6 separate regions of the Homo sapiens genome follow, and all the other regions are linked to region 2. The links come from fine-mapping of genetic effects on gene expression. A gene starts in region 2. Each other region holds a variant in brackets. All regions are shown on one strand. Distances are between the middles of the regions.

Region 1 (4,087 bases), 200 kb after region 2:
TACTTGGAGAACTGAGGGGGAAGGATTGCTTGAACCCAGGAGGTCGTGGCTGCAGTGAGCAGTGATTGCACCACTGCACACCAACCTGGGCGACAGCGAGACCCTGCTTCAAAAAAATAAAAATAAAAAAGCCTGTAGCCCCTCTTCCTTCCCTAATATATTTGGCTTCTATAAAAATTAAAAACCCAGGGATAAGAAGAAGGGGAGAGAATTGGAAAGCCCCTGGTTAGCTTTAAGGGCCTCTCAGTGCAGCAGAACCCATGCTGGCTCTATTCATAACTTTGCTCTCTGGATCAATATTCTGAAAGTTGGTACATTCTTTTCATTTGTGTCTTTCACAGAGGGCAGTAAAATTTAGCTCTAATTATATTTAGGGCATCTGGATTCTAGTCAGCATTTTCTGGCTCCGTTTTAGAACCTAAAGTCTGCGGCTTATTCCTAATGTGGAAAATGGAATAATCCCCCAGGCATGAGAAGAACTCCAGCATTGAGGCTGCTGTTCCTCTAGCGAGAAGCTGCTGCAGACATCACAAGACTTGTTATACAAGGAAACATGATTACAGTGGATTAAAGAAACTTGCCAGGGGCTTGAAGGATTTATTGCTTTTTGAATTCTGAATGAGACATAAATATGTTTTTCCCCTCTTAATTTTGGACCCCATACGGGTAAGGTGAGAAAATTCTTCAGCAAATTCTAGAATGCTTAGCTGCTAAAGATCAGTTGGTTTTGTGTCCACGTCATATTGCAAAGGGCATGAATACTTGCTTGGCAGAGACACAAAACAGTCACTCATTTCTTTCTGTTCTGCCAAGTTAGTTACTGCCTTGTCTCCCAGTGGGAGAAAAATGTAACTCCTTGGGGACTCTTCTGGAAGGCAGCATGGTGTAATGGAAAAAGCACTGTAGTCACAGGCACGAGGCCTAGACTACAGCGTCGGTGCTTATAAGTTCCATTATTTACAACAGGTTTCTTAAACTCTGTAAGCCTTTGTGCTCTTACTGCTCTTTTCGGAAAAAGCAGTTCTCAGAGGGTTGTATGAAGGATTATAGCACCTTTATGTTCAATATCATCTATAGAAACTCAACTGTTGGATGCATTAGCATCAGAATGACAGCTTGTAGTACACTCATTTGTGTTCACAGATCTCAGAAATTTTTATGTCCTAAATGGAGGGACTTTTAAAAATAATGATGGAGCTGGGCATGGTGGCACACACCTGTAATCCCAGCACTTTGGGAGGCCGAGGCGGGCAGATCACCTGAGGTCAGGAGTTTGAGATCAGCCTGACTAACATGGTGAAACCCCATCTCTACAAATACAAAAAATTAGGTGTGGTGGCGGGCGCCTGTAATCTCAGCTGCTTTGGAGGCTGAGGCAGGAGAATCACTTGAACCCGAGAGGCAGAGGTTGCAGTGAGCTGACATCATGCCATTGCACTTCAGCCTGGGCAACAAGAGTGAAACCCCATCTCAGAAAAAAACAAAAACAAACAAAAAAAACTGATGGCTTCTTAACCCTATCACTTCTGCAGATTCTTTGGTTTCTCAGGAAGCCAAAGAGATAGCATGGGGCAGTGGTTAGTAACAACTCTGGAGTCAGACCAACCTGAGTTTAAATTCACTACTTATTAGCTGGGAAGTCTTTGAACAACTCACCTAACCTGTTGTTCTCATTTTCCTAATCCGTAAAATGGACATAAAATATTACCTCAACCGTAATTTGTTTTGTTTCGTTTTGTTTTGAGATGGAGTCTCCCTGTGTCGCCCAGGCTGCAGTGCAATGGTGCGATCTCGGCTTACTGCAACCTCCGCCCCCCAGCTTCAAGCGATTCTTCTGCCTCAGCCTCCCGAGTAGCTGGATTATAGGCATCCACCATCGTGCCTGACTAATTTTTGTATTTTTAGTAGAGGCGGGGTTTCACCATGTTCGCCAGGCTGGTCTTGAACTCCTGACCTCAGGTAATCCACCTGCCTTGGCCTCCCAGAGTGCTGGGATTACAGGCGTGAGCCAATGCGCCTGGCCCTATTTTTTTATTCCTTTGTCCTGTTTCCTATGTGGGACTTATCACCGTTTGGCATTATTATTTATTTGTGTTCTGTCTACCACCCCAGCCCCACTCAAATATAATCCCCATAAAGGCAAAGACATTATATGTCTTATTTACTGCTTTATATGTCTTGCCTAACAAAGTAACTGGTACATTATTGTTACTTAATATTTTTACCTTTGAATTTTTTTGCCAAAATAATACAGAATTAGAAAGAATTCCTCCCCCAGTGTCATGGCTAAATTTATATACAGTAGCTGACTTGGAAACTGGGCAGAGTTGTTTTGCGTTTGGAAATACTGGTGTTCTTACAGTTGAGTTTCTATTTCCAAAAGATGCTTACTCAGCCTTTGATGGCACAGTTTGACTTGTGACATCAGAAGGTTGACAGGCAGAAGTCTGAGTCAGAAATTCAGCTATAGAAGAGCGTGACTTTCATCCCTGCTCGCCCTTTGAGGTATGGCTGGACACAGCTCAGAAAGGTCTTGGATTT[C/T]AATTTGTCTAGGAAGGTATTTAGCAAATTATTTTTACCATTTGGATTTTGGTACCAATCACCCGAGGAATCTGCAGTCTCTGCGTAAGTGAAGAATGAGAATGGAAGGGGTAAGTGGAGCTAGTGGGAGAGCACAGGCCAGCCCGCCACTTCCCTGGAAGAACTGATGGCTTTTTCCAAGGCCTGGATCATGCCTCGCCTATCCTCCTCCCCACTCCATGTCCCCAGTCCATCCTCTGACTTTTATTTACTTACCACCTTGGAAGTCATAAGATTCTGAAGTTTTCCACAGCTGCTGGGACTTAGGCACTGGGCCACTGAGGACAAGCTGACAGGTCAGTGTTTGGGCTCTGGATTTCACATCATTCATTAGCCCTCTCGATCCCCACAGAGAGGGACGTTCATGCTATGAACTGTGTCATGGAGAAAACACAGCCCTAGAAAGAGGAACTCTTGATCCCCCACTACTTCATTCTTTCAAGCCCTGTGACCTGTTCCTCTAAATGCCTGTGGGACCACAGGTGGGCTTGGGATGGGGATGCTTCCTGAATGCCCAGGGACTGTACGCAAAATGTTACGTGTGTGTATTATGGGCAGCCAGGGAGGCTCGGTTTCATCAGACTCTCAACAGATACCATCTTTGGTCTAAAATAGATTTGGAACCATGACCCTGAGTGGACCTAATGTATTTTTGTAATGTTTGTAGACTGCACATTTGCCCCTCTGGCCCTCCAGGCTGTGTGTGGGCAGATTGAGGATGGAAAAGCTGAAGCGGTGCACAGCTGCCCAATCTTGTTGGGTTGTTGCATGATGGCTCTCTCATCTCTTCTTGAGTTTGCTTATTTACACAATTAAGCTAGGCCCATTGTGAATCAAGTCCTGACCTGTCAACAGAAGATGAGATGGTTGAAGAGGGTAGCAGGCAATTCTGTGAACAAAATATAGCTATAGATCTGGCTTTAAGAGTAAAATAAGGCCGGGTGCAGTGGCTCATGCCTGTAATCCCAGCACTTTGGGAGGCCGAGGCAGGTGGATCACCTAAGGTCGGGAGTTCAAGACCAGCCTGACCAACATGGAGAAACCCCATCTCTACTAAGAATACAAAATTAGCCAGGCGTAGTGGCGCATGCCTGTGATCCCAGCTACTTGGGGGGCTGAGGCAGGATAATTGCTTGAACCCGGGAGGTGGAGGTTGCGGTGAGCTGAGATCGTGCCACTGCACTCCGGCCTGGGCAACAAGAGCAAAACTCCACCTCAAAAAAAAAAAAGTAAAATAAAATCATGCCACCAACAAACCTACCTATTAGTCCACTGATTTTCTTTCCTCTGTGACAAAATGTTCATCTCCATACTCTTAAAGGAGTGATGATACACTTGGCCTTTCACCTGAGGAAGTATAGGATGGGAGCTGCATGTCCCAGCTCAGGAGTATTGACGTTCCTCTTCTCAGTTAGCCCTGTCCACTGCAGCCCAGCTAATGTCTTACAGGCTATTAGAGATGGTGTACTGGGGCCAAGCATGGTGGCTCCTGTCTGTAATCCTAGCA
Region 2 (4,087 bases):
AAATGCTTATTAACCAAACTTGGGTTAAGCTTCTTTCCTTTCCCCAGGCTCCTTACTTTAACCTACTCTCAGCTTGAACTAGCATACTGTCTCATGTGTCCGTGTGAAGAGACTACCAAACAGGCTTTGTGTGAGCAACAAGGCTGTTTATTTCACCTGGGTGCAGGTGGGCTGAGTCCAAAAAGAGAGTCAGCAAAGGGTGGTGGGATTATCATTGGTTCTTATAGGTTTTGGGATAGGCGGTGGAGTTAAAAGCAATGTTTTGGGGGTAGGGGGTGGATCTCACAAAGTACATTCTCAAGGGTGGTGAGAATTACAAAGAAACTTCTTAAGGGTGGGGGAGACTATAAAAGAACCTTCTTAAGGGTGGGGGAGATTACAAAGTACATTGATCAGTTAGGGTGGGGCAGAAACAAATCACAATGGTGGAATGTCATCAGTTAAGGCTATTTTCACTTCTGCGGATCTTCAGTTGCTGCAAGCCATCTGGATGTATACGTGCAGGTCACTGGGGATATGATGGCTTAGCTTGGGCTCAGAGACTGACACACACAACCCCTACTGAGAATAGGTTGGCCTCAAGATAAAACATTCTCTAATCTACTATCTGATCAAGCCACCCCTTCATCCCACTTCCCATATTCGGTTGTTTCCAGCCTTGTTTACCTGCCTTTGGGGAGGGTGGGGGGTGGGGGAACCCTCTTTTTCCCTAACCATTGAAACATCTGCGGATGTTTTGGTCAGAGTGATCTCACTATTGCAATAGTCTCCCTCTGCTATTGCACGGTTCCTTCTCTCCCACCTCTCTCACTTCTTGCAGTAATCCTTTCTTTTTTTTTTTTTTTGAGACGGAGTCTCGCTCTGTCGCCCAGGCTGGAGTGCAGTGGTGGGATCTCGGCTCACTGCAAGCTCCGCCTCCCGGGTTCACGCCATTCTCCTGCCTCAGCCTCCCAAGTAGCTGGGACTACAGGCGCCCGCCACCACGCCCGGCTAATTTTTTTGTATTTTTAGTAGAGACGGGGTTTCACCGTTTTAGCCGGGATGGTCTCGATCTCCTGACCTCGTGATCCGCCCGCCTCGGCCTCCCAAAGTGCTGTGATTACAGGCGTGAGCCACCGCGCCGGGCCTGCAGTAATCCTTTCTAATAAGTATCCTTATTAGTCTGGATTTGTTTTCTTATTTGCCAGAATCAAACAAACTTCAGATTACGTTCCTGGCCCAAAAGCCCTTTAACTTTCAGCAAGCCACCTAACTTTTCTTAGATTCTGTTCTTTCATATATAACTTGGGGATATGTTTCAGGACTCTTGTGAGGATTAGAGATGTAAAACCCTGAAAACATGGTGGCTAGTTAATTAATAGCAGTCATCGCTCTTGTTGTTATGAGTCTAGAGTGGTATATCAGAGTTAATTTGTGAAAGGCCTTACAGGCCAGACAGAGAAACTTGTCATAATCACTGCTGTATCTTCAACACCTGTCCAGTGCTTTGCACGCGCAGAGTATCTAACCAAGTATTGAGAGGGAATAACTTTATCTCACTGACAGTGAGGAGCTGTGAGAATGATGGCTGGTTTAGAAAAGGCAGGTTGGTCACTGTCGACGTTCACTGGCCTTTTCCTACTAAAATTCTCATCTCCTGGCTCTCCACACCTGCCACCCTGATGGCCCCTGTGCTGCGTTTGATGCCGCCTCTCCTGGAGAATGACCATGGTGATCATTCCTGTCATCCTCTGAAATCAAAAGAGAGAACGTGGGCACTTTCTTAAAAGCCTGAAGGGAATGTAGACATTCCGACATCTGGTAAGGGAGACGCTCTCCATCGCTTCCCCCGGGGGCGTCACCGCCCCCTGATGCCCCGCCCTCCTCACGACTCAAGTTCCTCCCACTTAGCTCGGTGCTAGGGGCGCATTTCCCCGGCATGCCTCTGCTCCTTTGCGCACGCGCGCCGCTTCCCAGTGGCAAGCGCGGGCAGGACCGCGTTGCGTCATCGGGGCGCGCGCCTCAGAGAGAGCTGTGGTTGCCGGAAGTTGAGCGGCGGTAAGTGAGCCGCGGCGGGCGAGGGTGTAGTGGGGTCTTGCTGGGCCGGTTTTGGAGGCCTGGAGTCAAGGGGCGAGCTCGCCAGGGAGGGCGAGGGTCACAGCAAGTCTCAGGATCCTCCTCTGCCAGTTTCTGGGTGGTCCTTCCTCCTCCAGGGACTCACTGATTCCGGCTGGCGCCCTTCGTCTGTAGCCGCGTCCCCTCAGACTGGTTCAGTCCGGGGTCTTCTGACTTGGAAGCTCGTGCTGATTTCCTAAGTCAGCCCCTCCTGTCCTCTTGGTAGGCAGTGCTCAGAATCTTCAGTGTTGGAACACGGGAGATGGGACATTTGGATTCCCAGCCTGGCTGTGTCTGGATTTGCTGTCTCTGGCACGTTCCTTCCCCATCTAAGCTGCTTTTCCATCTGCAAAATGGGAATGATAATCCGCCATTTGTTTAAGTGAGGAGGTTAAATAAGTTTACTTTCTGAGAAAGAAGATTCTCGATTCCTTGGTTACAGGGTTAGAAACTAATGCACAATAAGAATCAATCCGGTAAGGTAAATATAGGTGTTAGAACATTTGTCAGAAATAGAGTCAAACTTCTAATTTTATAAGTACAGTACTAACGTACATGATGTTGGAGAAGTACAAGCCAAACCGTGTGTGTGTGCACGTGCGTGCAGTTTCCTGATTTTTAAACACTGGCGACTGATGCCATTTTTTAAAAATTGGCAAGTAATTCTGGCGTTTAAAAACATTGGCAACTCAGTTTTTACAAAACCCTGTTCAACTGTAACCAGTCATATCTGTGGCTGTCAGTTTGGGACCTCTGGATCCCAGACTCCCTTTTTCATTGACTACTTAGATTTTTTTCTCTGACACCTCTGCCCACTGGCCAGATTTCTTCAGTGACAGAAAGCTTTCTACTTCTGGTTGCTCCTGTTTGGTCCTCCCCCAGTTCTGACTCTTAGGTTGAGCTGAAAGCAGCTACTCGGTAATCTTAGCTCACTGTTCCTCCTTCAGGCTCTTGGAATCACCCCTGCATTTAATTGCCCTATACATCATTGAAAGCTGCTAGTTTGTCTTCCTCTTCTCACCTTTTCTTCTCTAGGCTAAGCATATTTAATGTATTTGCTCATAGTAAACTTAACAGTGACAGCAAATTTTGTCATGTTTTGTTATATCCCCAGCATATAGAGCAATGCCTAGCATATTATATATGCTCAATAAATATTTGTTGGATGAATGAATAAAACAAATATTTGCCTGTTATGTGCCTGGCATTATTGTGGGCACTGGTGATCTATCAGTAAAATAAGAAGAAAAAGAACCCTGTTTCATGGCACCTTCTAATAATAGTGGTGGTGGTGGCGGTGGCGGCATTGTCAGTAAGGGTTGGTAGGTGTTTCCGATTCTGAAACGTACAGGGTCATGGGATGGACAGTAATTGGGGGGAAGCATAAAAGCTAGCTAGTCAGGGATGGCTTCCCTGAGGAAGTGACCTAACACTTGAATAAAGAAAAGTCCAGTCTTGGAATGGCTCATGTTGCTAAACTGCTTTCCCATCCCCCAACGCTGCTCCAGTCTTGTTAAGCTGCTTGCAGGTGTGTGTCACCTATAGCCCTTTGCTTCTGCTGCTTCGAACATCTCCCCTTCCTCTTCCATTTATCTTGGCCAACTCCTTCCTGCCCTCATGTGACATGATTTTGAAATCCTTTAAGAGCTGAGTACTGGACTTTCCATTACTCAACCACAGGTTCCGTTTTTCGTTCCCAGCCAGCATCTCATTATAGAGAATAAACATTTATTGAGCTTCAGCTGTGTGTCTGGCACTGCGCTGCAAGCTGGGAATACAAAAATGAGTAAGATACACATCCCTGTCCTCAAAGAGTTTACTTTTTTTTTAAGCCAAGGAGATAGCAACGGTATGGCATGAAGCTATTGCGGAGGTTTGGTAGAGGAGGACTTAGGGTACGCATAAGTCAGGCTGACTCATCAGAGAAGGTTTCAGTGAGGAGGTGCTGCTTTAGCCAAGACCTGAAGGACGAACGAGATCTGACAGGTGAAGA
Region 3 (4,087 bases), 31 kb before region 2:
TTTTTTCCACTTTTTGGTGGTTATGAATAATGCTATGAGTATCTGCATACAAGTTTTTCTGTGGTCACACGATTAGTTCTCTTGGGTATATATCTAGGTGTGGAATCACTGAGTCATATGGTAACTATGTTTAACCATTTGAAGAACTATCAGATTGCTTTTCACAGTAGCTGCACCATTTGACATTTCCACCAGCAGTGTTTCAGAGTTCTTCTTTCTCCACATCTTCACCAACACTTGTTATTGTCCTTCTTTTTAAATTATAGTCATCCTAGTCCATGTGAAGTGGTATCTCACTGTGGTTTTGATTTTCATTTCCCTAATGACTAATGATGTTGAACATCCTTTCATGTGCTTTTGAGCCATTCCTCTATCTTATTTGGTGAAATGTCTATATAAATCCTTTGCCTATTTATAAATTGGGTTATTTATCTTCTTATGATTGAGTTGGAAGTGTTCTTTGTGTATTTTGGATACATCAGATATATGATATATCAGATATATGACCTATAAATATTTTCTTCCATTCCATAGCTTTTCATTTTCTTAGTGGTACCTCTTGAAACCCAAAAGTTTCTCATCTTGATGAAGTCCAATTTAGCAGTTTTTAAAAATTCCTTATGCCTTTGGTGCTGTGTCTCAGAAATCTTTGCCTAACTCAAGGTCACAAAAATTTAGCTCATACATTTAGGACTATCATCAATTATGAGTAATTTTTGTGTATGATATAAGGGAAAGGTCTAAATTCATCCTTCTGCTGGTAGATCTCGGTTGTTCCAGCATATGAATTATTGCATTTTGTCTGCTGCCTTCTTCTATCCCCTCCTCTATTTTAGCATTCCCAGAGGTGAGCAACACTCCTCCTCTTGCCCCCAGTGGCAGCCCCCCACCCCCACTTAACCCCACTTATAAAATCTGGAGATTTTGCATGAAATCTTTTAGTTTTTAAATGATGTCAATTATTCAATTGTTTCATTTGTCTTCTTGATACATCAGATATATGATATATCAGATATGTGAGACCAACAGACTGTCTTGATGGCACAACTCCAATTCCAGTGTTCCAGAAGAGAGAACTGGGCTGACTGGTTTGTTCTGGGTCAGAGATAACTTCTGGTTCAATCACGTGTGCCCAGGGGTCAGGGTTACATAGTATAACTGTGGCTGCCAGAGCCCACCCTAGGTGAAATGATGGTTCTCAGAGAGGAGGCTTGACTTGAGCTGGGAAAATACCCCAAAAGGTGTCCACTCCTGGGTCATTATCTCATATTCAGCATTCTGCATCCCCTATGAACCAGCTTGAGGTTTCTACCTGGGGGCTTACAAAATTTATTTTGTTTACCCTGTGTAGTGTTCAAGAAGACAAATGAAACAATTGAATAATTGACAGCATTTAAAAACTAAAATATTTCATGTAAAAACTCCAGATTTTGTGTTTCCTTTTAAAAACAGGCAGATCTGAGTCTGCAGCAGTTGGTAGAATGTGAGTGGCAGCTGCCCTCTTCAAGCAGAGGACAGGCTCTCCAGGTTGCCCCGATCCCTACCACTCCCTCTTGCTCCACACACAGTCCTCTGTTCTTAGTAGCTTTTCTTCTCTGACTCTGTAGCCTCTTTGCACATGTACCTCCACCCCTGGAAAACCCACTGGGGCCACTACCTGCCCGCAAGGTCATCTGCCTCTTGCATCTTACCCAGAGGCTGACTCTTAAGCCAGAACTCCTCCAGATTCTAAGTCAGTTAGGTTCCTGTAATACTAGGCCCATAATGGCATTTTGCTATTTGCAGTCTGCTCTGTTCATCACAACCAGTGGCACTGATAAGCCTGGGTGTTTCATGGAAATTATGACCTGGCCAGACTTAATGAGATTATGCAGTACTGGAGCACCCTCATGCATGACACCTCTTTCTCAGAATTAGATCAAAGAAATTAATGTTCTGACTTACTTGACTAGAATAACCAGCCTACAAATGATGAAGAGGATAGAGAAGTTTGGACTGGGGAGTAGCAGGTGAGGCAGTTTAGAATGAATCAAGAAAGGAATCCCAAACTCTCACTTTGTACTAGAGAAAATAAAAGATGTGCTAAGCATGTGGAAAACATTTCTTTATTTTTATTTTTTTATTGAAGGAATCTATATTTTGTTTTTTTCAAAATGAATGCAGTTAGCTCTTATTTTCCCTATTATAAAATAAAGACAATCTCATTGTTGAAATCCTGAGAAATACCAAATATAATAAGTATCATCCAGTACCCAGAGAAAACCATGGTTGATGTAACATAACAAAGATTCACCCTGGATAGAAGCCTGTTAGTTAACAGAATTGACATTGTCCTGTACAAACAAACCACGTACGTCTTCTATAAATTTCATCATAAGCATTTTACCACCTAATTGCTGGTGCTCTGTAATGATTATCAAGGACCCCATGATATTCTATTCTGTAGCCACTGAGAGTTGAAGCCAGCTGGACTCCCTGGGTGGAGTGGGAACTTGGAGAACTT[TTCTG/T]TCTTACAAGAGGATTGTAAAACGCACCAATCAGCACTCGGTAGCTAGGAGTGTAAAACGCACCAATCAGCACTCTGTAGCTAGCAATGGGATTATAAAATGCACCACTCAGGCTGGGCACGGTGGCTCACGCCTGTAATCCCAGCACTTTGGCAGGCCGAGGCGGGTGGATCACGAGGTCAGGAGATCGAAACCATCCTGGCTAACACAGTGAAACCTTGTCTCTACTGAAAATACAAAAAAAAATTAGCTGGGTGTGGTAGCGGGCGCCTGTGGTCCCAGCTACTCCGGAGGCTGAGCCAGGAGAATGGCGCAAACCTGGGAGGTGGAGCTTGCAGTGAGCCGAGATGGCGCCACTGCATTCCAGCCTGGGGGACAGAGCGAGACTCCGTTTCAAAAAAAAAAAAAAATGCACCAATCAGTGCTCTCTAAAACATAAAACACACCAATCAGCGCTCTGTAAAACGCACCAATCAGCACTCTGCAAAATGTACCAGTGGGCGCTCTCTAAAATGCACCAGTCAGCAGGAGTCTAAAAGTAGCCAATAGTGGGGACGACTGAAAAAAGGGCACTCTGATAGGACAAAAACGGAACATGGGAGGGGACAAATACGGGAATAAAAGCTAGTCACCCCAGCCAGCAGAGGCAATCCGCTTGGGTCACCTTCTAGGCTGTAGAAGGTTTCTTCTTTTGCTCTTCACAGTAAATGTTGCTGCTCACTCTTTGGGTCCTTGCCATCTTTAAGAGCTCTAACACTTGGCCGGGTGCGGTGGCTCATGCCTGTAATCCCAGCACTTTGGGAGGCCAAGGCAGGCGGATCAGGAGGTCAGGAGATCAAGACCATCCTGGCTAACATGGTGAAACCCCGTCTCTACTAAAAATTCAAAAAATTAGCCGGCCATGGTGGCGGGTGCCTGTACTCCCAGATATTCGGGGAGGCTGTGTCAGGAGAATGGTGTGAACCTGGAAGGCAGAGCTTGCAGTAGCCAAGATCATGCCACTGCACTCCAGCCTGGGCAACAGAGCCAGACTCCGTCTCAAAAAAAAAAAAAAAAAAAAAAAAAAAAAGCTGTAACACTCACTGCAAAGGTCTGCGTCGCCATTCTTGAAGTCAGCGACACCAGGAACCTGCCGGAAGGAACCAACTCCGGACACACTACCTCAAGATACATTTAGTTCCCAAATGCCAGCTCATTTCTCTTTATTTTCTATCATAAATAATGTTGCAGTGAGCGTCTTTGTGCATAAATCTTTATTTACATTTTAGATTACCATGAGATAAATTTTTAACTATAAAGTGTTCAGGGAAAAGTAGAAAAGTGGACCAAAAGGTATGGTACAATATTCGTCAATGGGATAAATCCTACCTCAAACTTCTTTAAGTCTGAACTTCTTTTGAAAATTATGCTTACACTTTCTGCACTTAGTACATCTCCCCTGGCTTCTGCTGTTCTGTATTGGTTTGGGTCTCTCTTTTTTTTTTCCTTTTTTTAGATGGAGTCTTGCTCTGTCACCAGGCTGGAGTGCAGTGGCATGATCTTGGCTCACTGCAACCTCTGCCTCCTGGGTTCAAGTGATT
Region 4 (4,086 bases), 45 kb before region 2:
AGGGGGAGCAGGGCCAGGAGACCAAGGGACCCCTTCAAAGCCAAACTGAGGACTTGGGCCCCTGGAACTCATTTGTGAGTTCTAAAAATTTTCTTGTAGATTCCCCAGGATTTTCTACAAACAAGACCATGTTATCTTCAAATAGTTTCACTTCTTTCCTTCAAGTCTGGATGCCTTCATTTCCTTTTCTTGCCTAATCGCTTGGCTTCTTTTAACTCCTTTTATTTTTGACAATGTGAGAACCAGGCCTGGCCGGCTGGAGTCGGAGAGAGGGACAGACTGCTCTCTGGAAGGCTGGCCAGACACGGGAAGATATGTAGGCCTAGTCAGGCGACTGCCAGGGCAGATCTCTCAAACTCTGATCTGGCAGGCACTCCAGGTAGCCCCGAGGGATGATCAGGGAAGAGGAGACAGGTGAATGCCTCTTTGGAGCACTCAGTGACGGGAACATATTTCTGGAGCATTCAGTAACTTCATTAAGCACCTCCCCACTTCTTGGCTCTGAGGACACAGAGATGACTCAGACCCACATGTGACACCCACAGTCTAGTGAAAAAAGTCTGATCAGTAATTAAGGAATTACAACCTAGCTTTATTATTTATTTATTTACTTACTTACTTTTGAGACGGAGTCTCGCTCTGTCGCCCAGGCTGGAGTGCAGTGGCACGATCTCGGCTCACTTCAACCTCTGCCTCCCGGGTTCAGGCGACTCACATGCCTCAGTCTCCCAAGTGCTGGGATTACAGGCATGAGCCACCGCACCCGACCACAACCCAGCTTTATAAGGGTTGTAATTGAGGTCTGTGCAGAGTTCAGCGAAGCCCTGGAGAAGGAAGTGAATTAACCCAGCCCAGAGGGACGGATGAATGACTAAAAGGAAGTGACATCAGAACTGGGTTGTAAAGAACTAACTGAATGTCTTGCCAGGGTAAGAGGATGAGAACAGGCATTCCCGGCAGGAGAGCAGCATTTGTAAAGGTATGGGGTGTACACGAGCAGGGCCTATTTGGGGAGAGTGGAGAATCAGAGATGAGGCTGCACAGTAAGGTGAGACCAGGTGGAAAAAGCTCTGTGTGATGGGTCGAAGGTATTGACATATACTAGCCACTGCCCGGCACCCTCCCTCCGTTTCCGGAGTAGACCTGTTTGCTTATCTCGTGGGCATTTGCCAGGCTGATTAGAGTAATGAGTAAAGAAAAGAGGGCACTGGGAAAGCTAAGTTCATTTATATTAGAAATTACATGATACTCTTCCATAAATCAGAAAGATTGAAGAGTGGGTGAAAGAAGGGAAAAGGGAATTAAAGGGGAACCAAGGCAACCTGAAGTTTTTGAGAGAGAGAGCAGGAAGATTTGAGGATGAGCAGGTGATGCTGTAGCTGGCGCTATGTAGCGACAGATGGGAGAAGTTCTTTGTGATGGTTTTGCCTCTTTGAGAGTCTTCAGTAAAGGTTGAAGTTACTTTTCCATATCGTTTTATTTTCTGGATGTTGGACTTGAATTTCTTTTTAATGTGATCATGGGGCCAGGCGTGGTGACTTATGCCTGTAATCCCAGCACTTTGGGAGGCTGACGCGGGTGGATCACTTGAGGTCAGGAGTTGGAGACCAGCCTGGCCAACATGGTGAAACCCCGTCTCTACTAAAAATACAAAAAAATAGCCAGGTGTCATGGTGGGTGCCTGTAATCCCAGCTACTCAGGAGGCTGAGGCACGAGAATCACTTGAACCTGGGAGGCAGAGGTCGTAGTGAGCCGAGATGGCACCATTGCACTACAACCTGGGTGACAGAGCAAGACTCAGTCTAAAAAAAAAAAAAAAAAAGAAGATACCATGTGTAGACTTTATTTGGGTTGTTACCCTTGTATCACACATGTGGGGCCAGGGTGCTTCTGTATATCCTGACAACAGTGGCCAGCCATTAAAGAGTTTTGAGTAGGGGAACTGGATTTGTGGTTTTAGAAAGATCATTTGGCTTCTGTGTGAAAGAGGCCAAAACCAGGAGCAGAAAGACCAGTTAGGAAGCTGTGACAGCAGTTGAGAGACGATGTTGTCAAAGTCTGCAGCAGAACAGAACAGGGGTGACCCCACATGGACATCATCTCTGCTCTTCAGTCACCTGTAGTGCAGAGTTTTGAAGTAGGTCTGAGCATGGAACCGTAGTGGTTGGGAAGGAAATGCCATTTGCCTATGGGGTGATTAAGATCTTTTTTTTTTTTTTTCCTCAGGCGGAGTCTCGCTCTGTCCCCCAGGCTGGAGTGCCGTGACGTGATATCAGCTCACTGCAGCCTCCGCCTCCCTGGTTCAAGCAATTCTCCTGCCTCAGCCTCCCAAGTAACTGAGATTACAGGCGCCCGCCACCACGCCTGGCTAATTTTTGTATTTTTAGTGGAGACGAGGTTTCCCCATGTTGTCCAGGCTGGTCTCAAACTCCTGACCTAGGTGATCTGCCCACCTCAGCCTCCCAAAGTGCTGGGATTACAGACGTGAGCCACCA[C/T]GCCCGGCCTTACCTTTTCATTATGTAAATACACACCCAGAAGGAGGCCTGTCTGAGCTGCACAGGACTCTGGTCTGCACCTGAGCATCTTCCTTTCACTTCTGGAGTGCTTGAAGAGATCTAGACAAGACCACTTTCTTTGTGGTTTCTTGACTTGCCCACACCCCCTAGGAACTTCCTCTCTCTGAGAGTGAATAGAGTCTGTCCTTAGATAGCACTTGCCTGAGGAAGCAGCCAGAAGTAAGATTTGCTATCAGTTACTAGGGAAATGATTGCTGTTGGAGCTGGCCAATTAATCAGCAGGACAGAAAGTTCTTGGATGAACTAGGACAGGCCCCAGCCATCCCTAAGGCATATCAAAAACGAGGGGAGAATTGGGAGTCTTATTCACATTTCCATCTCTAGTGGCTTGGCCTAGCATAATACCTGGTACCACATTATTGTTTAATTAATAGTTCCTGAATATATTAATGAATTAGCATAACATGAAACTCTGAATGTGGTCATGTTGGGTCAGAACTGTGGTGCGTTAAAGGCAGGATTCATCTACTTATTCATTCATCACTTACTGAACTCCTCCTACCATAATTCAGCTTTAGTTAGGAAAGTGATTCACAATATTGGTTGCATTGGAACCATCTGGAGAGTTTTAAAAATCCAGGCCAGGCACAGTGGCTCGTGCCTGTAATCCTAGTGCTTTAGGAGGCCAAGGCAGAATTGCTTGAGGGCAGGAGTTGAAGGTCACAGTGAGCTGTGCTCATGCCGCTGCACTCCAGCCTGGGCAACAGAACGAGAACCTGTCTCTAACAAAATTTTTTTTTTTAATCCTGAAACCCAGAGATACCCCAGACCAATTACACCAGAATCAAATCCAGGAGTGGTGAGTCCTCAGCATCAGTATTTTTTTTAAAGCTCTGTTCATGATTCCAATGTGCAGCCAAGTTTGAAAGCCACTGGGCTAGGTGCTGGAAATATAAGTGAATATCACAGTGCTCCTGCCCTTGTAGGGATCAAAGTCTACGTGAAGGACACCTGAATTCATTCTGTAGAATATAGTGGGCCGAGCACAGTGGCTCATGCCTGTAATTCCAATACTTTGGGAGGCCGAGATGGGTGGATCACCTGAGGAGTTTGAGACCAGCCCGGCCAACATGGCAAAACCCCATCTCTATTAAAAAAATACAAAAATTAGCCAGGCGTGGTGGTGCGTGCCTGTTGTCCCAGCTACTCGGGAGGCTGCGACAGGAGAATCGCTTGAACCCAGGAGGTGAAGTTTGCAGTGAGACGAGATCTTGTCATTGCACTCCATCCTGGGTGACAGAATGAGAGTATGTCAAAAAAAAAAAAAAAAAGAATATAGTGGTAAATGCCTTAATAGAGATATGGAAACAATACTGTGGGAACCCAGAAGAAGAAATGCTTAGATATGGCTAAGGGATACAGGAAAGCTTCAAAAAAGAAGGAACAGTTAAGATGGACGTCGTAGAATAAATAGAAGTTCATTGACATTTTCCTTCCCTCTGCCTCCCTCCCTTCCTTTTTCTTCCCATCTTCTTTATCAACCTTTCCACCTTTCCTTTGTCCTTTTCA
Region 5 (4,087 bases), 290 kb after region 2:
GAAAGCGCTGTGGAGTCCTGGCCCCGTCGGGGCAGCAGACCTGCATCAGAGGTTTCTTTGGTAACTGAGGCAGGAAGTAAGGATGCTACATTAGACAGATGTTCCACGCGTAGTTCCTGCTATCATGTTTGAGGGCCCCCTTGTACGGATACCAAGCAAGTACAAAAACAGAACACAAATCCCAACAACATGGTTTTTGCAAATAAACCATCCCTTCCCTTCCCCCCACCCCACCCCCATGATTTTTTTTTTTTTAAGTACTGACTGTTCAAAGCTCAGGCAAACCATGCAGATCCACGTGTTGTTGGAGGAGGCGCTCCCTTCAGGAGACCACAGAGGGGGAGTGACTGTGGCTGACCATGTGGGCAGAGGGGCTGGCGGGCTGGCCCCTGCGAGAGGCGGACTCAGGGCTGCTGGATGCTCCGTCCTTGGCCGCTTTGATCTGGAGCCACGTGTCACCCAGAGCTTTGGCAAAGTGGTCGTCCACGGAGCCCGTGATGGACACGGAGTTGGGTGCCGGCTCGGGCTCCTTGTAATTCTTGCCCAGGCTCCTGCGGAAATGCTCCTCCACCACGGGGTCACAGGTGGTGGCAGCTGCAGGCAAGCAGGAAGGCAGGCAGTCAGACACAGGTGGCTGCAGACAGACAGGCACGGTTGCAGCACCCTCCCTCAGGCAGCCCAGAGCCGGACTGGCTGCCACGGTCAGCGTGGGCTCTGCAGACAGAACCCACCTCCCCCGGCTAAGTCAGGCACTTGGGCAGGTCACTTTTCTGTAAAATGGTGATGTACCAACTGCACTGGGCCAGAGTCCGAGTTCAGAAAGAGAATGTGGCATTAAATTTAAATAACAGTAGCCGCTGCCCTCCCTGCAACTAGGGCATGAGACCCTGGAACTGAGCGAGGCGGTGTGTTTCTCATGCCCTTCCCACCCAAGTCATGCGCAACGCTAGGCGCACACTGGACGTGCTCAAGAAATACTTTTTCAACCTCAGCAATAGATGGGCTCAGGGGCGAGAGGTTTCAGCCAACAGCATGACAGAGAAGGGCTCTGCTGCCACTAGCACAGCTGTGACAGGTGAGGAGGCCCGGGACACTCACCGCTCGGTGGCCTCCGGTAGCTGGCAGGCCCGGGCGCGGCACAGCCGCTGTGCGCGATGGGGCAGTGCGAGAGGTTGCAGTTGCGGGCGCCAGCCGAGGCACAGGTGATCACGGAGGGCCGGTTCTGCGGGGAGGAGGGGTGTCAGTATGTGGAGACCAGCTTCAGTACCGGGCACCACCCCTGGGGCCCTCCCCAGCACCCTTCAGGCTCTGTCCTGGTGCCCTTCCTGACCCAGTCTGCCACCTCCCACTTCAATACTGGAGTCCTGTTGCTAAACACAGCCAATCCACAGAGTGAGCGCAGCTCCAAGGGTGTGTGTAGTGGCCCTTGGTCGTGGCTGTTTGGATCAGTGAGGGTACAAAGGACAAAAGCTCAACTGTTGAGTTGGTCTGTCCCCATCTCTCAAATCTGTTAAGACAAACACCGGGCATCCTGTGGAGGACAGAGGGTTGCAGGAGGGACCTCGATTCTCCCGTTAACGTCCCCAGAGCCCTTCCCATCATGTCCACTGAGCCGCGGGTGTGCCTGGAGCCATCCAGGACACTTCAATACACGGCAATTAACTGGAAGCATTTTGCTTGAGCCAAAGCCAGCTCGAGTTGGCCTCAGTGATGACCTACAAATCGGGACAGAGAGGAAATGGAGGAAATATGCCTAAGTGTGGAACGGCACACATCCCACCCCAGCCCGATCTGCCCTGTGCACAGCCTCACTCTCTCCTTCACCCCCACCCCCACGCTGTCTGCCTGGCAAACTCCCCTTGTTCCTTCAAGCCCTGTTCAGATCTCTCTCTGAAGCCTTTCACTGGCCACCGCCCCACCACCACCGCTTTTCACTCCTGCTCCCCTAACCCACCAAGATTCAGCAAGTGCATCGGTCTGTCCAGGTGCTCCCGTAAGACCATGCACACCAGGCAGTATGTCTGGCCCCCCAGCTTTGGTGTGGAACCTGGGACAGAAAATATTTGTGAACTAAACAGAACTTCCTCAG[G/T]TTCCCCCAGGAAAAGTATCTTCCAATACCCCCGAGGACAAGGTGGTGGAGTATGTGGGCTAAGTTCCAGGACAGCCAGCAAGGAGCTGGTTGAAATCACCCCACAGGGACCAATGGTGACAGCAGTGTCAGCCAGAGGGACGCTGGGCCTTATCCTCCCCAGCCAGCCCTTTCCATTAAAGTTAGAGCAGTAGCTGGTATAAAGACACAAAAGGCTTGCATGCCAGACCTTCTCATGATAGACGACAGTGATTGGGAATGGTGAAAGTGGATTCTAGGATGAAAATGTGGATCCACAAGGATGAACTGGGATTGAACACAAGGACCTGTGCTTGGGTCTAACAAGAAGCGACACATGCCAGGGTAGGGGGGGATGTGGCTTAGCAACAGCAGACCAACCAAGAATTCAGGGTTTCTTAGTGGCCCGACACTTAGCAGCGGGACAGAGCTGCCCAGGGTTCGTACGGCCTCCATGGTGTGCACAGGTGGCAGCGCAGAGAGAACCCGGGCAGGTGGAGCTGGGCTGAATGTCCACGTTCTGCCTGTGGACAGGGCCTCGGGTGAGAGACTTCACAATGCTGAGCAGACAGGCTCGGAAAGGGGGTTGGGGACCGACAGATGAGGCCTGGAGCAGATCTCACACTGGCTGACCACAGGGGTCAAGCAGCAGCAAGAGAGCAGAATACCGAGACCTGGACACGCACAGAGCCAGGAGGAAGGAGGGCCCTGCCCCTGTCCAGCTCTCAGAGATGGCCAGGCCCTTCCTGAGCCTGGCTGCACCCATGACCTTGGGCTCTAGGAGACCCCCCCCCAGGGTCCTCCCAATAAAACTCCCTTTTGTGCTCAGCCGGCTTGTTCTTTGCAGCGAGCGTGTCCTGACCCACGCAAATGTGGGGAACTGGGGAGACATTTCGAGCACAGGGAGGGGGAATCAAGGAAGATGAAGAAATGAGCTCACTGTCCAGCCTTTATGTCAGTCTATCCAAGGCAGGAAAGGCCACTTCAGAAGAGACTCTCTAACAAGGGACCAGCAGGGCAGGCTGGCTGACTGGTATCAGACCACCTTCAGGGCATCTCCTGACCTGAGCTGGGGCGAATTGCCTTAACCGGTCACCTGCAGATGTGAAGATGTTCAGTGTCTGGGCATCCTCTCCTCCTCCCCACAACCCAGGCTGCAGGGTGGCCCGTGAGCCCTCGTGGGACTGGCTCCACCACCCCTCCTCCCCAGCTGGAGTCAGGCATCTTGCCCCTGCCTCTGTGGTTGAGTGCAGGCTGGGACTCGTCCACCTAGAACGGGCCCCAGGCCTCCAGATGGTGAGCGTTTATGGGATCCCGAGGCTCCCCTCCCCCACACCCTTATTTTCCAGATGGGGAAAATGAAGGCCAGAAACACCCTGTTGGAAGTTACGCTGCGGATTTGTGGCAGGGCCAGTATGAGCCCTGTCACTAACCCCTTCACCCGCTGTCCCACCCACCTGTGACTGTCCTCAGACAGAGGCTGCCCCGGGGGAGAGGGCTCCCACCACCTCTCCTATCTGAAAGCAACCCCCAAGGCTGGCTGCGCCAAACTTTTTTTTTTTTTTTTTTTTTTTTTAAAGACAAAGTCTCACTCTGTCGTCCAGGCTGGAGTGCAGTGACGCGATCTTGGCTCATTGCAAGCTCCGCCTTCCGGGTTCAAGCGATTCTCCTGTCAGCCTCCCGAGTAGCTGGGATTACAGGCACCCACCACCACGCCTGGCTAATTTTTGTACTTTTAGTAAAAACAGGGTTTCACCATGTTGGCCAGGCTGGTCTCGAAATCCTGGCCTCAAGTGATCCGCCGCCTCAACCCCCCAAAGGGCTGGGATTACAGGTGTGAGCCACTGTGCCCAGCCCTCAATGTGCGAAGCTTAACCCCATCTTGCCTCTCCTCACTGGCTGCTGCCCAAGGCCACCCTCTTGGTGTTTGTCTGTCCTGAGCTGCTATCACAAACATGAAATGGGGGGACACTTTCTGTA
Region 6 (4,087 bases), 280 kb after region 2:
TCTACTTTCCTATAAAGCCCAGCCCCGGCCCAGGCCCGAGTCCTCTTATGAACAGAACAACCCCAACCACCCATTTGCAGAGGGCACTGCTGTTTGGTACTGACCCTGCCCTGCCCAGGCTGGCAGCCCTCCAAGGAGGCTGGGCAGGAGGTCCCGGAGGACACGGCCCACAATGCTCACCCTTTTCATTCTCCATCTTGCCCCATCACCTCCCACCTCGGCCCCTTCCTCCAGGCAGCCCGCCCCGCCCTTTTCCACACACCCCTGGTTCCCAGCACTGAAGCTTGCTTGCTGTGTGATCTCAGGCCAATTGCCTTACCTCTCTGGGCTTGTTTCCATCTTCACCTCACAGGTAGATGTGAGGTCACCTCACAGGTAGATGTGAGGAGTGAAAGAGGGAGTATTCGCAGCAGGTCTACACAGCGTGTGGCACAGAGCTGGCTACATGAATGTGTGTTCGTTGAATGGGAGAGTGAAAGAATGGATGGATTGTGCTGGCAAACCCTCCAGGGGCTCAGTTTCTTCCACTCGGACCATCAGAACCCAGAGATCAGATCCAGGAGCTCCTAAATGCAACCTTTGTTAGAAACACAGCTCCCCTGCCCTGCACTGCTCAGTCCCACCCTGGGGGAGTTTCCAGCCGCACTGAGGATGAGCTCGGTGGGGACCTGACCCAGAGATAGGGACACCTGGTCACTGGACCGCAGACCGGCCCATCCACAGCCTGGCTGGGCTGGCATCTAGACCTCGCTTGGCAGTCCCCTCCCAAGAGCTCAGATAGTTTGGCCTCGGGAGACAGGGGCAGTGAGAAGGCTGCCTCCCCTCAGCCTGGGAGCTGGGTCCTCAGGAGAGAGGAAATTTCCTTCTATTTATTTTCGACATCCTCGACTTTGAAAGCCAAGCTGGTGTTGATATTTACCTTGGCCAGGCCTCCCATCTCCCCGGGCCAGCCTCGTGTAAACATGCTGTTCCTTCTCTCAGCTCTGCTAGCACTGAGGTGGCCTTTTGCAACCAATTCTAGGAATTTGGAAGTCTGAAGGCGTAGGTTCAGGGACTGGCCCTCCAGGGAGCCCTGGGTGCCAGGGGCCCTGGGACCTGCTGTGCTGGCCTTGGGCTCTCTCCCTGGGGGCTGACACCAAGGACTGCAGGGAATGAATGGGCCTGGGCCCATGGGGGTGTCGGCCAGGGTGGCTCTTGCTGGGTCCCTCAGTTCTCCTCACAGCCACGTTGGGGCCTCCTGCTCCCCAGGTTCACTGCGAGGCTCAGACTCGGAGGACACGCATTGAGGGACTGTGGCAGGATCTGGCTGTCTCCACTGTCTTTGCTCCAGGCCACCTCCACCCTGGCTGGTGGGGAGGGCTTGCTCTTGAGCCAGCTCTCTAGTGTGAGTTGGGAGTGTGGGCAGCTGGACTACAGTTAGAGGGAACATGGAGCAGGTGCCCAGGGTGCAGCCTCCCAAGGCAGCACGTGCCCATGCCAGAATTCCTGCCCTCAGGGAGCTTGCCTTCCAGAGGGCAGGTGGACCACAAGGAGAACAAGCTGGCTTGGGGTGGGGGTGAGTGCTGCAGAAGCCAGGATGAGCAGAGGCTGGCTGGGTCAGGGACGGTCCCCCGAGGTGGACATGCAGGAGGTGAGCAGAGGCACATTCCCCAGTGCAAATCCCAGCCCTCCCCTGTTGGTTCCACCAGGTGGTTCACACACTAGTGACGCCTTGGCAAGTCTGAGATTTGGTTTCCTTGTACAGAAATGGGGTGACAGTCCCTCAGAAACAAGGGAGTGGTTCTGCAGGTGGGAGCTGCCATGACTGCTGCGGTTTTGAAGCATCTGTGTGCCCCCCACCGGGCAGTGGGACATCTCGGCTGAGCCTCTCCCCTTCTCCATGCAGATCTGGGACATGAGCGA[T/C]GATGAGACCATCTGAGATGGCCCCGCTGTGGGGCTGACTTCTCCCCGGCCGCCTGCTGAGGAGCTCTCCATCGCCAGAGCAGGACTGCTGACCCCAGGCCTGGTGATTCTGGGCCCCTCCTCCATACCCCGAGGTCTGGGATTCCCCCCTCTGCTGCCCAGGAGTGGCCAGTGTTCGGCGTTGCTCGGGATTCAAGATACCACCAGTTCAGAGCTAAATAATAACCTTGGCCTTGGCCTTGCTATTGACCTGGGACTTGGTCCTCCATGCAGTTTTTATTTCTTGTCACAGTGACTGATAGCCATCCCCCAGGATCCTTTCCCCTTGGCCCTGAGGGGGTGACCCAACACAGACCAAATGGGGAAATGAGCAACCAGCTCCTGCCCAGAGCCACTGCGGGAGGTGGCACCCTCATCCCCGGAATGTGCTGCCCACCGCACCGCAGGCTCCTCCTGTGGGGGCCCTGGGCATGGGTGAGGGTGGGACCCCGTGAGCGCACTGCACCCTGGCCCTGGTGGAGCGGGAGGAGGAGGAGAGCCGAGCTGGGTACGAGACTAAAGGGCCCACATGACCCAGTGACGCCAGATTTCCACCAAGGACTGAGTGAGCTGCTCAGACATGGCTTTCTGCCTCCCAGCCTGTCCTCCACTGTGGGCATAGCATCTGTGCCTGCCTGCCTGCTTGAGGGAGAGGAGTTTCTGCTGCTGCCTTGAGCTGGGGGGAAGAGCCCAGGGGCAGATCCTGGCAGCTGCCTGGATGGGGCTCCTCCCTGCCCTTATGAGCAGGCCAGGCCCAGAAAGGCCGAGCCTGGGCTGCCTTCCTGCCCCAGCCGAGGGAGGGGTCAGACGGCTCTACCATGGGTAACTCAGGCAAGAGCTGGTTTTCCTCTTTATTCTGGGTGTGTGCAGCTGTGAGGCCCCAACCCAGGAGAGGCCATGGCCTAGGTACCTGTGACCACCCTGCCCCCGTGTAGAGGGCATCGTCTTTCCTGCTATTTTATTCTTTCAGCTTTTGTCTTAGGCCCAGAATCAAAGTGAAAATTGAGTCGAGCTGACCCTTACAACAGTAGGATTTAGTAGGGTAGATTTCAAATGAGGCTTCGCTTCTCCCAAAGTAGCCAGTCCAAGTTCCAGTGGCTGTCGTTCAGCTCATGGGAGCTTCATGGGGACACAGCCGGCACAGGTGCAGGGCCCGAGTCCGCCCACCCAGCCTGGCGCTGAAACTGCACACGTACACTATGTGGTTTAAGAGCACTTTATTATTGTTCTTAAGGCTACTTTTAAGTACAAAAAAAGATGGCCTGCCAAACCTTTTTTTTTCTTCTTCCAGGAAAAACAGGCCACAGAGAATGGTATATTACAGATTTACACACATGAAGAGAAGGTCAGAGCGCACTGCAGGCAGCGCGGCTCTGGGAAGAACTTCACGGAGCCCCTTCTTAGAGCAGGGAGGGGGCTTTCTCAGTGAAATGTTTGGTTTTCTGCTGCCTCCTCTGCCCCAGGCCCCCCTCCAGGGTACTGCCTATCCCAGATAGGTCAGTGCACCAGGGACCCGGCCGCCAGCACCGCCGACCCCTCCCAGAGTGACGCCCTTGTTCACTGACAAAGAGACCTGTCCCAGGAGTGTCCTCCACCGAGCCGGTCAGCTGTGGGTGGTTTTCCTGTTACGACGCTCAGTAGCCTGTAGCAATAACAAACTCGTGGCTATGAATGCAGATGCAGTGTTCTCATAGAATAACTGTTCCTGCACTTTTACAGACAAATCTACGACAAAAAAAAAGATCAACTTTTTTTTTCCGAACAACAAAAAAAATGAATGATTACAATAGGAAAGGGAAAAATTAAATAGCTACATATCATTAACAAATTAATGTTCTTCAAAAAATACCTACAAATTTCTCTGTACATTCTTTACGCACAGCGTAACGATGGTCTCAAAATCACCCATATAGAAAAGTGTTCTCAACGATTTTTCCTACAGAAAATATAGGGGCCTGAATGCCAAAGCTTGGAAGCCCAGTACAGTGGGAGTGAAATGTGTGCGGGGCAAGGAGAAGGGCTTTTCTTTCCTCCACTTTTCAAAGGCCTGCAGCCACTCTGTGACTACAAGAGCCAGTCCTCCGACCTTTTCACCCAGTGCCAATTTCCAAAATTCAACAGCTAAAAACTGTAAAACCGGGGGTCA

Which allele goes with the higher level. Positions count from the first base shown, and alleles are read on the strand shown. Sizes are in standard deviations (SD) of each study's normalised expression. Not every link is listed here.
With allele T in place of C in region 1, the expression in skeletal muscle of the gene that starts at base 2,004 in region 2 is higher (large effect, 0.83 SD a copy in FUSION).

What was found. PIP is the estimated chance that this variant, and not a neighbour inherited with it, causes the effect.
Region 1: its variant is fine-mapped to the expression of ATG7 in skeletal muscle (FUSION, PIP 0.95).
Region 3: its variant is fine-mapped to the expression of ATG7 in whole blood (INTERVAL, PIP 0.98).
Region 4: its variant is fine-mapped to the expression of ATG7 in whole blood (TOPMed, PIP above 0.99).
Region 5: its variant is fine-mapped to the expression of ATG7 in lymphoblastoid cells (GTEx, PIP above 0.99).
Region 6: its variant is fine-mapped to the expression of ATG7 in sun-exposed skin (GTEx, PIP above 0.99). The same link has a PIP of 0.9 or more in aorta, cerebellar hemisphere, cerebellum, cerebral cortex, esophagus mucosa and esophagus muscle.

The regions. Positions count from the first base shown.
Region 1 is chr3:11,465,653-11,469,739 of GRCh38, forward strand. The region is part of intron 20 of ATG7 (autophagy related 7); the gene reads left to right. Among named protein-coding and RNA genes, the nearest start is that of VGLL4, 180 kb to the right of the region's middle. The variant C/T (reference allele first, on the strand shown) is at 2,542.
Region 2 is chr3:11,270,394-11,274,480 of GRCh38, forward strand. ATG7 (autophagy related 7) reads left to right here and starts at 2,004. Exons shown (of 21, transcript NM_001349232.2): 1 at 2,004-2,037. RefSeq lists enhancers at 1,602-1,651, 1,608-2,199, 1,922-2,051, 2,200-2,789.
Region 3 is chr3:11,238,934-11,243,020 of GRCh38, forward strand. The region is part of intron 1 of HRH1 (histamine receptor H1); the gene reads left to right. Among named protein-coding and RNA genes, the nearest start is that of ATG7, 31 kb to the right of the region's middle. The variant TTCTG/T (reference allele first, on the strand shown) is at 2,504.
Region 4 is chr3:11,225,081-11,229,166 of GRCh38, forward strand. The region is part of intron 1 of HRH1 (histamine receptor H1); the gene reads left to right. It overlaps LOC102723663 (a long non-coding RNA gene), which reads right to left and starts at 838. Exons shown (of 4, transcript XR_001740596.2): 1 at 620-838. RefSeq lists an enhancer at 723-1,017. The variant C/T (reference allele first, on the strand shown) is at 2,497.
Region 5 is chr3:11,558,234-11,562,320 of GRCh38, forward strand. It overlaps VGLL4 (vestigial like family member 4), which reads right to left. Exons shown (of 5, transcript NM_001128219.3): 4 at 1,099-1,222; 5 at 1-594. The coding sequence ends at 323. It also overlaps a transcript of ATG7 not described here. Among named protein-coding and RNA genes, the nearest start is that of VGLL4, 84 kb to the right of the region's middle. The variant G/T (reference allele first, on the strand shown) is at 2,090.
Region 6 is chr3:11,552,926-11,557,012 of GRCh38, forward strand. ATG7 (autophagy related 7) reads left to right here. Exons shown (of 21, transcript NM_001349232.2): 21 at 1,886-4,087. The coding sequence ends at 1,918. It overlaps VGLL4 (vestigial like family member 4), which reads right to left. Exons shown (of 5, transcript NM_001128219.3): 5 at 3,144-4,087. Among named protein-coding and RNA genes, the nearest start is that of VGLL4, 89 kb to the right of the region's middle. The variant T/C (reference allele first, on the strand shown) is at 1,903.